Homo sapiens: one gene and its partner. The protein of the gene in region 1 purifies or fractionates together with the protein of each later gene. This does not show direct contact. Each region holds a gene or a part of one and is shown on either strand. Other genes may lie near its edges.

The links. Proteins that work in one complex are often made in the same cells at the same time.
Region 2: the proteins of GMFB (region 1) and RAB3GAP1 purify together in Homo sapiens (co-immunoprecipitation; 2 studies listed by BioGRID and IntAct, with this or other methods). This does not show direct contact.

What each region holds. Positions count from the first base shown.
Region 1 is NC_000014.9:54,478,884-54,486,036, forward strand, and holds part of GMFB (glia maturation factor beta), read right to left. Parts: intron 4,885-7,153; coding exon 4,788-4,884; intron 3,320-4,787; coding exon 3,270-3,319; intron 2,576-3,269; coding exon 2,526-2,575; intron 2,074-2,525; coding exon 1,991-2,073; intron 977-1,990; coding exon 903-976; intron 1-902. UniProt on the Homo sapiens protein: This protein causes differentiation of brain cells, stimulation of neural regeneration, and inhibition of proliferation of tumor cells.
Region 2 is NC_000002.12:135,160,292-135,167,291, reverse strand, and holds part of RAB3GAP1 (rab3 GTPase-activating protein catalytic subunit), read right to left. Parts: intron 4,738-7,000; coding exon 4,641-4,737; intron 4,545-4,640; coding exon 4,441-4,544; intron 4,307-4,440; coding exon 4,191-4,306; intron 2,699-4,190; coding exon 2,596-2,698; intron 1-2,595. UniProt on the Homo sapiens protein: Catalytic subunit of the Rab3 GTPase-activating (Rab3GAP) complex composed of RAB3GAP1 and RAB3GAP2, which has GTPase-activating protein (GAP) activity towards various Rab3 subfamily members (RAB3A, RAB3B, RAB3C and RAB3D), RAB5A and RAB43, and guanine nucleotide exchange factor (GEF) activity towards RAB18.

The sequences.
Region 1 (7,153 bases):
CAACTTCAGCACTGTAGGGCATCCCCAGGATTAGAACAGACTTGAGGCCGTTAACAGCTCCTTCTTAACCACCCAAACCGTTAGAGCAACTCCAGTGTCCCTGTGTTACAAATCAGGAAAAAGTAATGTCTATAAAGCAGTGGTAACAATCACATGGGCTAAGGGGAAACAGCAGAGGGCACTTAAAGGCATTCCAGAGTTGATTATTAAGCACCCAAGGGGAAAATACTGATGCTGTTCTTAAAATAAAACTTGAAAGGAAATACTGTCTAACACAGTTTTGGCAATATAATATCCTATTTCAAAACCTTAAGTGCATATACTTTTTCAATTCAAACTAATATGTGGAAGTTAAATAAAGTTTGAGAGCCAAGTACCTCTTACCTTTAACTTTCAAAAATACCATAAAATAGGGACATGTTAAATCTTAAAGCAAGTTCTCATATAAAACAGAATGTTCTAACTTTATTAATATTCTTAACAATTTTATATTTGGAAACAATACAATTAACTGCATAATACTGAATTCCAGCACAGAACTCGGTTCATTTTAGACTATGGTAAAGGGTTCAGAGAAACTTCAATGCTGACCCTTATCTATTAGAAATTACCTTATGGCAGATAAACTAACTCTCAATAGATTTAATAGTTACAGTGGCTTTCTAACACTGCCTATATTTTGAATGTGATTTCTTCCAATCAACTTATTCAAAAAATACACTTTGGTTCAAACGCTTCTATCTCATTCTATTTCCAGTTAACAAAAAGCTTTGGCTAACTTACTAATCTGGTCTAAATAACCTTCACCTGCATAAAAAATACTCCTTTAGACTATTTTAGCTATTGCTTTATAGTCTAAAGGAAAATATTGTCTCAACAAGTCAGTCAAATATAAATACCACCTTGGTTAGTTCAGCTGTCTGGACTAGCTTATTCTTACTTCCAGCATACATCATCTGTTGTTCAGGCTTACATCCTGGAAAAGAGAGATTAGTGTAGAAATGAGACACAGATTTTGAGAAAGGTATGGGTTATCATTATTTTTATTTTTTAAAATGACACATTTAGGATTTCCTTTGCTATTGAGTTTACAGAATATATATGGGTTGTATTTTGAGTCTTACATTGCACACTGCCTACAGAAAGAGACAGTTAAGTTATAAATAAACAAGAACAAGTCTACAGGTTGGCAAAAATAAAGATTCTAGACATTTGTAGATCCTGACTTTTAGAGCCTTGCAAACAATTAAAAACTTTCTGCACTATCTTAACTTTGACACTAAATATCAAGATCAATTTTATGGATGACTAAAATACACAAGGTTTTGGGATGGTAGTGGACCAGTAGGGCAGGGAGATCTGCTCTGATAAAAGTTTCACTCTGCCGATATATTAAGTTAAAAATATACTGCAGTATATTTTGAGTGGGAAGTAAATTATACAAATTATGAAGTTTGGAGAATAGCTCAGTGAATGCAGTTTTTATTGCAGGCCTGAACAGTGGTGATAGAAGTTCTGGTGATAATGAATTCCTTAAATACCAGTAACCCATTTTAATACCCAATGTAAATTACTCTAGGACCATTCTCAAGATTATAAGCATATCACTGTTAACTACTATTTAAAAGAAACACAAATATATGCAATTATATGTGAAGTTCACATTTTTATATGATTAAAATATAAAAAGAAAATACTTCTGCTATATTAGAATGTCATCACGTTTCAAAATCCTTAAAATACATGTATGATTTGAGTCAACAATTACACGTCTAGAAATTTATCCTAAGAAAATAAGTTCTAAGAGATGATGCTTCATTCTTTCTAGGGATGCATGCACACAGGCACATGGACACACATAGACACAGACCCTCCTCAATTTAGGTTATTCAACAATGTTCATCTTTAAAAACAGCAGAAAATTTGTCTAGTATAAAATGGCTTAATTGGATCTAAGCCAAATATGTGTTATTTAAAGAAATTCACTTACCAACAGGACTGGAGAAAATAAAGCACAGAGGATATGAAACTCTTCCATCATCATGTTGATATTTATAACTATACACAATGAAGGTTTTTCTCAAGTTAAAGAAACTAAAGTTACTGCTCTCAGACAGGTATTTACCAACACCTGGGGAGCTACTGAGCTGCAAGTTTCTGTCCTATTCTTTTAGGCCACACCTTCATTATTATCTTTCCACAAAATTAAATGGGTTCCAAGGATAAGTTATAAAATCACATAATCTCTCAAAAAATTTAACTTTTTAAAGTACAAGTTTAATACAGATTATTTTCTCAATTTTTATTGTACACGTTATAATAAAGGAAATAGTTTTAAAAAGAAAATTATTCATCCCACGAATAAACCAACTTTTCATTTTTCTTAGTCTAGTATATGCACACATATTTTAATTTGGCTGTCATCATGACACAGAAGGATACTTTTAGATGTTTAACAAATGAGCTCACAAACAGGTCTGACCACTAAAGAAAATAAATCTTTTAAAGCACTAAGAAAAGGATATCGAGGTTGTCGTTCAGGTAGTTCATCTTTAAGTTCATCTGGTGAAATGCCCTGGCACCACAGAGAAAAGCAACTTTTAAACATTTTCTTACCCATAAGTCCTTAAGAGATACACCAAGCACCCATTCTACTAACAGTTATAAATTTATTACCACATGCTACAAAATAAAATTTTATCTTACTAAATTATACATAAACTCAGGTTACTAAATTCTCAATCCAATCAAAGCCTCCTTCTGCCCACTTGGTTTCATTCCATTTATTAAGTAAATATGGGGCTGGGAGGCACAGATTCTATGCTTATGTCCCAGCTGTCAGGAAATACTGAATGACATAAGCCAGTATCTTAGCGGAAAGAAACAATGTCTGATTTCAGAAAAAAGAATTGAATTCTTTTTACTCTAGTTACTTAATTTGACAAACCAGATATTTAAATTGTAGGGTTTCAGGTTTTAAGTACTAGTCAAGCAACTTAGAAGCAAGTTACAAAGTTGACTCACTTCTTACTCAGTATATGACCCCAACTTATACCACTTATTACACTGGACTTCACTAATGCTTTTAAACAAGGTAGTTAAATTAGCAATATCACAAACTACACAATTAGCACATGCTTTTATGCATAATGAGCATGTATTTAAAGGAGGTTCAAGATTCGTTTTAGAAGCATATGTAACTAATATAGCATCTTTTGAGAAATAATAATTACTTAACTATAAAATTGTATTTAGTTCATTGAACAAACCTCAAGCTCCTCATCCAGTACCACCAGGCGTTTATCCTTGTCAATCTTCACTAAAATAAAAATCAAGTATGAGTAAGCTGGGATTCTAATGTGACCCTGATCTGCCCAACCCACACAATCTCAGCCTTTTTTTTCGGACATCTAAAATTAAAACATCAAGAAACAGAAGCATATAACTAATTCACAGTTTTAGTTTACGGTTTATTAGCTAGCTTTGCTTTTCAAGCTGTCAGCTTTTAAAAGCTTTTACCCATAATTCCCAGTACCTAATTTGCTTATTTAGAACTTGCTGTTAATTTCTTACATTTCCTGTGTATATGAAAGAACTTTGTAACTCAAATCCAACTTCTAGATAATAAGAAAAAGCCTGAAAGGGTAACTGTAACTGATTGGTCTATATGCAACATGGTCAGAACTGCAAGGGAAAAAGTGCCTGATCGGGGATCAAAATAGAGAAACCTCAAAATTCCTGGCTTCTCCAAGGTCAGGATTTCATGGCACGGTATCATTATTCTAAGAAAGTGAATAACCAAATAGAAGTGATATCTACATTCAAATATATCTAATGTAATCCAAAGCTAAATCAAAATAAGTTTAGATACTCTATGCCTCTATCCTTTCCTGTTAGTCTGGCAAAGTTGACCATGTTTGGTTTTGCACCAATTTGATAGTAAATCTTGTGAGATATAATGTAATCTCAAATAGTTTCAGCTTTTGCAGTAAATGGCACTAACACACATTTTCACTTTTATTTTTTTTTCACTTTTAAGAACCATATGTCGACATTGCAGTATTTATTTATAATGAAATCAGAATTCATGACAAGTTGTCATGACCTCTGATTAAATCACATCTGCCAGATGCATCTCTGTTAAGCATGGTCTCTAGAGTTTTACATTTTCACCCCCTCATCCTTTCCTCATCTTTCTAAATCACTACCTACATATTAAATACTGCCTATGAATACAAGGGAAATCTGCATAATGTCAGATATAGCTCACAGTGGGAGGAGCAATATGCAAATCACTTTTTCCATTTTCAGAAGATAGTGCCAGTGCCACTTAAAAGTACTCTTCCTGAAACCAGAGTTCAAATCTACAACTGGAATAATGCCCAAAGTCACTATGTACACAATGCTGAACTTTGTCATTTTAGGTGTAGGCAAAGGTTTCTATTTGAGGATGAATGGCCAGGCTATTTTTAGTCCCCCAAGAAGGATGGGTTGGATGGGTCACTGCAGATGGGAATCCTCATTACCCAAGGACCAAGACGACCGCCTTCTCCAGAGCTGTACAGGCAGCTGATAAAAGGACTATGGGGGAGGTGGGACAATCCACCTCTGTTCTGTGACATTAGAATTAGCTGTTACTTATTTTTTAAAGTGATCTAAAGGTGGTGGTGGGGAAATGAAACAGAGGAAGTAACATTGCTTTCCAACGGTTCAGTTCATTCAATGTAGCTACAAGATTAAAAACAAATTAAGACCATGTAACTTTGAGGCAATCACTTTTAGCTTACTTATAATAGCAGCGTTGTTCGTTTCTTTGCGAAAACGAAACTTTCTCAGCTTTTCCACTAAATCTTCGGCAACATCACAAACAACCAAAGACTCACTCTATAAAAGAAAAAAAACACACATAAAATGCCATGACTTCAATATATGTACATGTTAAAGTTATGAAACCTAATACCTTTATAATGCATACTGACATTCACAAATGTCAATTAAGTGAAAGCATTAAATACATGAACACTTAAAAGAACTTTAAAATCAACCAACCTTTGGATCTACATTGCTTAATCCTACAAATTTGTTCATCTCATATATGTAAGGTATATTTTAACTTTCTCTTTGGCTAATGAATGTCTCAAAAACCACACACATAATAATGTGCAATGTCATCAGAACTGGAGAGGAAGGGAAGAATATGGGGAAAGTCAAGAATCACTGTCTGCTGTTAGAAAGGGAGTCAAGCATACTATTTTTACACAGTGAAGGAAGAACAAGAAAATAATCTGATTATACTTAGAATTAATAAATTATTTTTTGTCCTCACAATTACAGGGGAAAAAAAATATAAGCAACAAAAGTGTTAAAAACCCCATAAGAGTAAAGACCAATAATATTTTATATTATAATTAAATGATTATAGAGATATAAAAAGGAGCTACTAAGAATGTGCAAAAGAAATAAAAGCAGAGACAAAAAGAAACATTGCGATTGATACCACAGAAATACAAAGAATCATTAGAGACTATTATGAACACTATAACAAAATGGAAAACCTGGAAGCAATGGATAAATTCTTGGACACACACAATCTACCAAGACTCAACCATGAAGAAATAGAAAACCTGAACAAACCAATAATGAGTAATGAGACTGAAACAGTAATAAAGTCTCCCATCAAAGAAAAACTCAGGATCTGAGGGCTTCACTGCTGAATTCTACCAAAGATTTAAAACACCACTTCTACTCAAACTATTCAAAAAAATTGAAGGGGAGAACATACCTCCAAGCTCATTCTACAAGAACAGCATTACCCTGATACCACAACCAGACAAGTATACAACAACAAAAAAAAACTATAGGTCAATATGCTTGATGAACATAGATGCAAAAATCCTTAACAAAATACTAGAAAACCAGATGCAACAACACATTAAAAAGATCATTCACCGTGATCAAGTGGGATTATCCCAGGGATGTAAGAATGGTTCAACATGGGCAAATCAATAAATGTGATACATTACATTAACAGAATAACAAAAATCGTATCATTTCAAGAGATGCTGAAAAAACATTTGATAAAATTCAACATCCTTTCATGATAAAAACCCTCAACAAATTGGGTATAGAAAGAACACACCTCAAAACAATAAAGGCCATATATGACAAACCCACAGCTGACAGCATACTAAATGGGGAAAAACTGAAAGCCTTTACTCTAAGTTCTGGAGTAAAACAAGGATGCCCAATTGTACCACTTTTATTCAACATAGTACTGGGAGTCCTAGCCAGAGCAGTTAGGGAAGAGAAAGAAATAAAAGACATCCAAGTTAGAAAAAAAGAAGTCAAATTATCCTTGTTTATGACAACATGATCTTATATTTAGAAAAAGCTAAAGACTCCATTAAAAAAAAAACTATTAGAACTGATAAATGATTTCAGTAAAGTTTAGGATACAAAATCAACATACAAAAATCAGTAGCATTTATATACAACAACAGGAAACAATCTGAAAAAGAAATCAAGAAAGCAATCTCACTTACAATAGCTATAAAAAATTTAGGAATAAATTTAACCAAAGAAGTGACAGATCTCTACAATGAAAATTATAAAACACAGATGAAAGAAATTGAAGAGAACATACAAAAATGGAAAGATTCCAAGCTCATGGATTACAAGACATAATATTGTTAAAATGTCCATACTAACCCAAAGTGATCTACAGATTCAATGCAATCCCCATCAAAATACCAATGACATTCTTAAAAGCAAGAGAGAAAAGATCCTAAAATTTGTAAGGAGCCACAAAAGACTGTGAATAGCCAAAGCAACCCTCAGCAAAAAGAACAAAGCAGTACTTCAAAATATACTACAAAACAATAGTTACCAAAACAGCATGATCCTGGCATAAAACCACACACACAGGCCAATGAAACAGAATAGAGAACCCAGAAGTAAATCTACACATTTATAGCCAACTCATTTTGGACAATGATGCCAAAAACATACACTGGGGAAAGGACACTCTCTCCAATAAATGGTGCTGGGAAAACCAGATAGCTATATGCAGAATAAAACCAGACCCCGGGCCGGGCACAGTGGCTCACGCCTGTAATCCCAGCACTTTGGGAGGCCGAGGCGGGCGGATCATGAG
Region 2 (7,000 bases), on another chromosome or scaffold:
TTATTTGCTGAATTCCATTTAAGTATGTACATACCAGAGATACCTATAATCATGATAAGGCTTATTACTATTTATAATTTTAAAGAAAAGTTATAAATATATAGAATTACTATAAGCTATAAAAACACCAAGTGAAATTACATCACAACTTTTTAAAAAAATGTGTTAAAATCTTGACTAATTAGTAAAATTGATATAAAGTATCAGCTAATGAAAAGTTACATGAATAAATTCTAACAGTTTACTTCAGCCAGACATTTAAAACTGAGTTTAAAAATGTACCAACCAGATGCTTGTTATATGTATTACACAGTCTACCAATTCCCTAAAAACATTCACTACAAGGTCTGAAAACTTTAAAATCTTTTCTTAAATGACATAATGTAGATGGATGTACAATTTCAGTAGCCATTAAGGGGGTTAGCTATACAATGAGGCTACTGAAAGATGATATACTATGTTCCTGTATTTAGTGATTTTGAAAGATATCTTAAGTATATTAAGTGGAAAACAAGAATAATGAAGTAATTATATAATATAACCCTACTTTTAAAATTATATATACATATGTATATACTAGATGTTAAATCATCAATGGGTAGTGAGATTATGTGATTAATATTTTCTTATAATTTTCTAGGCCAGGTGTGATAGCTCACACACACCTATAATCTCAGCACTTTGGGAGGTTAAGGAAGGAGAATTGCTTGAAACCAGGAGTTCTAGATAAGCCTGGGCAACAAAGTGAGACCCCGTCCCTACAAAAAATATAAAAATTAACTGGGCGTGGTGGTGCATGCCTGTGGCTCCAGCTTCTTGGGAGGTTGAAGCAAGAGGATTGCTTAAACCTAGGAGTTCAAGGCTGCAGTGAGTTATGATCTTGCCACTGTACTCCAGCCTGGACCACAGAGTGAGACCCTCTCTTTAAAAAATGAATAAATAAATATAAAAGTTCCTATATTGTCAAAGTTTTACTTGCAGTCAGTAGAGGGGGTAAGGAGGTTATTTCTATTTTGGGGAAAATAATTTTGCTTAGTTATCTAAAATAAGTAACAATCTCAGGACTAAAAATATAAATACTTCACATTTTAAATCCTCTTAACACATAACTTTTTTTTTTTTTTTGAGATGGAGTTTTATCACCCAGGCCGGAGTGCAGTGGCATGATCTCAGCTCACTGTAACCTCTGCCTCTCGGGTTCAAGTGATTCTCCTGCCTCAGCCTCCCAAGTAGCTGAGATTACAGGTGCTCACCACCACGCCCAGCTAATTTTTGTATTTTTAGTAGAGAAAGGGTTTCACCACATTGGCCAGGCTGGTCTTGAACTCCTGACCTCAGGTGATCCACCCACCTCAGCCTCCCAAAGTTACAGGCGTGAGCCACCGCACCCAGCCAACATGTCACTTATTAAAAATGATCAAAGAGGAAAGAATTTTTGCAATATGAGGAACATTCATATTGGTAGCTAACAAGGAAATGCGCTTGTAAGCTTCTGGGTAGTGAACTGGATAGATATTATCAGATGTGGAACCAAACTCGGTTCTTGTTTTCATGCCAGAGAGAAAAACAAAATAAATCAAAGCAAGCATCTATTGTTTGCTAGAAGTCTAATTTATAAGGAAATAAATATTTGGTTATTAATTTGAAATTCTGAGGTTTAGGGAGCTGCCCCATAAACAAACTCAGATTTTAGCTCTTGCTAAGAATTCCTATCAGTGTATTTGGCTATGAATTTGAATATATTAACTAGTTGTACTCCAGACCAACTCTACAGGGATTATCCAGTTGTTATTCCACGTGTAGACACATAGAAATTCTTTTTCTTATTTGTTTCTGAAAATTACACTCTCAAAACTGGGTCATTCTAGTGTAATCACAGTGCCATATAAGGGGAAGCGTGTAATTAGTGCACATAACGCCTTTATCAGAATCCCTAATATTAATGAGCCCTGAACTGAGAATTATCTGTAGGATGCCAGAGCCCTTAGCCAGTAACCAAGATACAATATAATTTTAAAATCTTTACTTTCACTACTAGAGGTAATGGTTATGATAATTTTTCAAACTGGGCTTTCTTTCTGTGCTGAAATCTGTTTCCACAGCCCTAAAAATCTGAAGTTTTCCTCTTCTTTTCTAGGAAACCTCAAAGGTAGATCTCCTCACCATTACAAGAACAATTATATTTATAATTCAAGCTGAGTTGTGACTCCACTTTGCCCTACATGGGGTTTAAAGATGGTAAAACTGAACTCCATTCTCATTTGAAAGTACCTGTGAGTAAACATTTTTTCCCACAGCACAGCACTGGCCATTGCTAACTGACTCCCTGCCAGCTTCTATAACAATGGATTTTGGACTCTTCTAATTTTTAAAATTTAGGTCCTAGAATATACTTATCATTTTAATTCAACATGTAAGAAATCAAATGGATTTCGAAGACTCAGAAGTCATTGTTTCTTCAGTGTTCAAACCCAATGCCCAGACTTACACTCAGGTGACATGAGTGTGATCAGCCACGTGTGGGAACTAAAACAGCCTCTTCCCAAGTAGAGGTTTGGAGAGATTATGATGGAGTCAATAATGACTCTCACATACCCTCTGGGCATTCACAAACAGCTTGTGAATGATCCTGCCAGCATGTCCTCTTCCTGCACCGGTGACTAACACTTCAGGCTGCTCCAGCAGGCAACTCACAAACCTAGGAGACAGAGACAGGCAATGAAAGGGTGGAAAGTGAGCTGTCCAGGCCACTGGGCGTCCATCCTCCCACAGGAGTTTTGTGGACAAATCCTCAAGCTGATACTGGCTAAACCCAACAAGGTTGGAGTGAAATTTTACAGCAAGATAAGATTGACATTTGGAATTATTATCGACTTAACTGACAATCTTCCTGCTTTTTCACCTGTGCTCATAAAAAATGTTTAAAGCCTATCTCTGTCAAAGTGTAAGAAAAAATATTCAGTCTATTTTTTTCAGACTAGAAGCTTAGAAAATGCTACAGTTAATAAAAGATGAAAAAAAAATTGTATAATATAAACCAAGTTATATTTATCCAATAAAAGCAATGATCCATATTTGTTTTTGTTTTTTTTAAGGGGTATGTGTCTGTGTGTGCACGCACACGTGCACATATGCTTAAAATACTTGTGTTGGGCAAAGTCGCAATTGTAAACTGTGCCATTAGATGCTGGAAACACTGAACTTCCAAGTATGTCACAGATAACGTATGGTGGAACTAACAGAGTTGAAGGCACAAAGCCACCAAACCTGCACCACCTGCTCACTAATTCATACTCTACTATTTTAGAAACGAGTCCCTTGATTAGAGCTTATTCTTCTCATTTAAAAGGAAGACATTTTCAAGAGCAAAGCAGTGTGGGAGAAAACTTCACCTAACAAAAGACATAAAATTCAAACACAAACTTGTTAAAAGACAGCAAATGCCTTGCCATACAATATTAATTATTTAGCATCAATAATGCCATTTATTATGGAAAGGCTAATGAAAATTTTTAAATGATGACAAATTTAAGCCACTGAACAAGCTAATTTGTGAACACTTTATCACACATTAAAACAATATTGTCCTTCCAAATAACATGGGCAAAAAATGAACAGGGCCTCACACTGATCTAAGCTCCATTGGTAATGGTGCCGAGTCTCATAAAGAGAATGCCCCAATCATTTGCTTCATCTGAGAAAAGCCATCTGGTCAATCTTTCAAAACATAATCGCAAGGCACATAGGATGTGCACCTTTGCTATCACAAATCTTGTTTAAAATAAACAACTAGGAACAGTAAGCAGAAATGGTTTCAGCACCTGCACCCTGTGGTCAAGGAATAGTAACAGCTGAAAACAAAGTTTTGGGGCAGGGTGAGCAACACAGTTAACAGCTCCTCCACAAGAAATTCCAGACACCACATCTCCAAGAGCAAACCAAGGAATCCCTAGAAAAGGAGGCTCTGGGAGACTGTTTCTAAAAGTGGGAAGAATGGAAACACCTGGTAGAGACTCAGAAATACGGGAGAGGTCAAATGCTATGATAATTATTTCTGTCTCTAGACAATGCTTGTTTCAAATAATATATGATTACCACAAAAGAGTCTTAATATCCTATTACAATTTTTCTTAAGAGAGTGGTGGCTTTTCCTACTGCAGACAAAACTGAATTAGCCAAATAGCAATTACCTTTCAAGATCTTCCTTTTCCTCCTCCTGTTCACATTTCTCAGTTCCAAACTTGGCTTTTAGTGACCGAGCTCTGGCAATGAGAGCTTCCACATTAGTAATCTGGTGAATGATTTCCTGGCGGTAGAAAAGGAAGAGGCATACATTGCGAGATGGCAAAAAAGCAAAGCCCTTTGAAAACGCATCTTAAAAATTATTTTTGCCAACTGAGGAGAACACTTGGCAAGATTCTGACACTACATCAAACTTACTTCCAATTTCTTGTCTTCTGGATTGGGGAAGTGCAAAACTTTACTGGAATGGGATATTATCTGCTTTATGATCTTCTTAACTGAAGAAATGTTTTCGAGACTTTCTATTTTAGAAAAGATTGAAGCCAGCATTAAATAAATTAAGCAAAATATACTTTCACTTTGGAAATGACTAATGACTAGTTAAATATGACATTTACCTTCTTCCTTTACCTTGAGTACAGCTGCATGAATCACACAAGGTAACAGGTGCCGAGCAAGGTCTGCAGGTTTCTGGATTGCCAGATAGTGCAGCACCTGAAGGAGGTGCAGCGCACACAAATGATCAGCGCAGGTGTCAAAGGATGAAGCAGCCACTTACAGAAGTGCAAATCCTCAGCCACTCATCTTAATCCTTAACAAGACAGCACTCCAGATAGGCAGCCACGACCCCAAAGGTGAGGATAATGTTACTGAAAGCACCTAAGAACTTCAATCTTTAATAATTATAAATATTCTATTTTTTTCTGCTTTCTTATGTAATACACACAAATAAGGAAAATACAAAGAAAATAAAAACTACCGACTGATTACAATACCAAGAGAAAACAACCATTGACAGTGGAGCATTTTCATTTTAAGACGCAGAATACACGTACTAAGGGCACTAATATTAAATATGTAAAATACTGCCTTTTAACCTGCTTTTCTCACTTAATATTTCTAAACATTGTTAGTGACTTCCCACACATTTTTTGGTTTTAGTTGTTTTGGTTTATTTTTTTTCCAATTCTTATTATAAGAATACAGAGAAGTATGTACAAAACATGGACCCTACCTTTAGGCTCCTTATTCAACAGTAAAGATAAAAGAAGTATAACCCTATAAATATGTACAATTCTTTTACATCAATAAAAATTTTAAGAAGTATAATCTCATAATGTGAGTCTGACTGATAAATGCTCATGGATTTCAAAATTTTAAAAAAAATACAGGTGATGCAGAAATTTTCCTGAAATCCTACTTCCCCAAAACCACATTTTCGTGTTTATCCTCTCAAACTACTTGTATGTCCATTTAAACACAAAAATGTAGATGCATATGTAATTTCTTAACAAAAATTAATAACTTACATACTGTTTTATTATTTGCTTTATTTAATGACTTGTGGTGGACTTTTTTTTGGCTTAGAGAGTTTTGTCTGATTTGAAACTTTTTTTAAATTAAGAAATATACATACTAGAGTATTAGAAATAGTTTAAAGAAAACACCAGCTTAGGAAACAGAATGTTACCAGGCTTTTCCAAGTCCTCCTGTGTACCCTCCATCCCCAGAATTAACTACAAATCATTCTTTTGCTTTTCTTTATGGTTTTTTTCACATATGTAGCCTTAAATAATATATTGTTTACTTTTGTCTAGTTTTAACCTTTATATTAATGGAGTGTTTCTGTTTATAGCCCTCAGTGACTTGCTTTTTTTCATTCAGTATTTTGATATTCGTATACCATTCCAATATGCTATAGTTTACTCATTTTCACTGCTGTATTAAAATGTTCCTACACTAATAGTAGTGGATAGCTCCTCAGTTTTTGGCTATTACAAATGATGCTCCTATTACATTATTGCACATATTTCCTGGTGCAAATGGGACATGTACAGCAATTACTTTAGGATATATACCTAACAATTGAACTAGGAAATGTACAACATAATTATCCTACAAAGTGTTTCAACAGATTTACATTCTTATCTAGAGTAATGAGTTCCCTCTGTTGTACATCCTTGCTAATACCCACCTTTCTGAATTTTGTTTTCCCCTGATTCACAGAAAAACAAATTTGCAGGAATAACGTGAAATATGTGATTCCCCTTTACCTGGATTCACGTATGACCTGTCTCCCTCCTCTGTTCTGGATCCCTTGCATCTTTCTCTGCTTTCATGTGTGTACATACTATAGACATAAACTTGTTTCGAATAATTTCAGAATAAGTCGCACACTCATGTCCCTTATCCCAAAATATCTGTATTTCCTAAAATTAAAAATATTTTATTATATAATCAAAATGCAAATGATTCTGATTATATACAATAAATTTAACACTGATAAAAATAATTGTAATCTAACCTACTATCTTTATTGCAGTTTTGTCAACTGATCCCATATGTGTCTTTTTTTTTTTTTTTTTTTTTTTTTTGAGACAGGGTCTTTCTCTGTTGGCCCAGACTGGAGTGCAGTGGTGCGATCTTGGCTCCCCACAACCTCCGCCTCCCAGGCTCAAGCGATTCTCCTGCCTCAGCCTCCTGAGTAGCTAAGACTACAGGCACATGGCCACTACTGCCCGGCCAATTTTTGTATTTTTAGTAAAGACGGAGTTTCACTATGTTGGCCAGGCTGGTCTCGAACTCCTGACCTCAAATTATCCACCTACCTCAACCTCCCAAAGTGCTGAGATTACAGGCATGAGCCACCGCGCCCGGCCGCAAAATGTGTCTTTTATGACCCTTTCCCTCAACCACTACAAGTCTTGGTAAGGATCATCCATTGCCTTTAGTTATCATAGCTCTTTAATCTCAACTA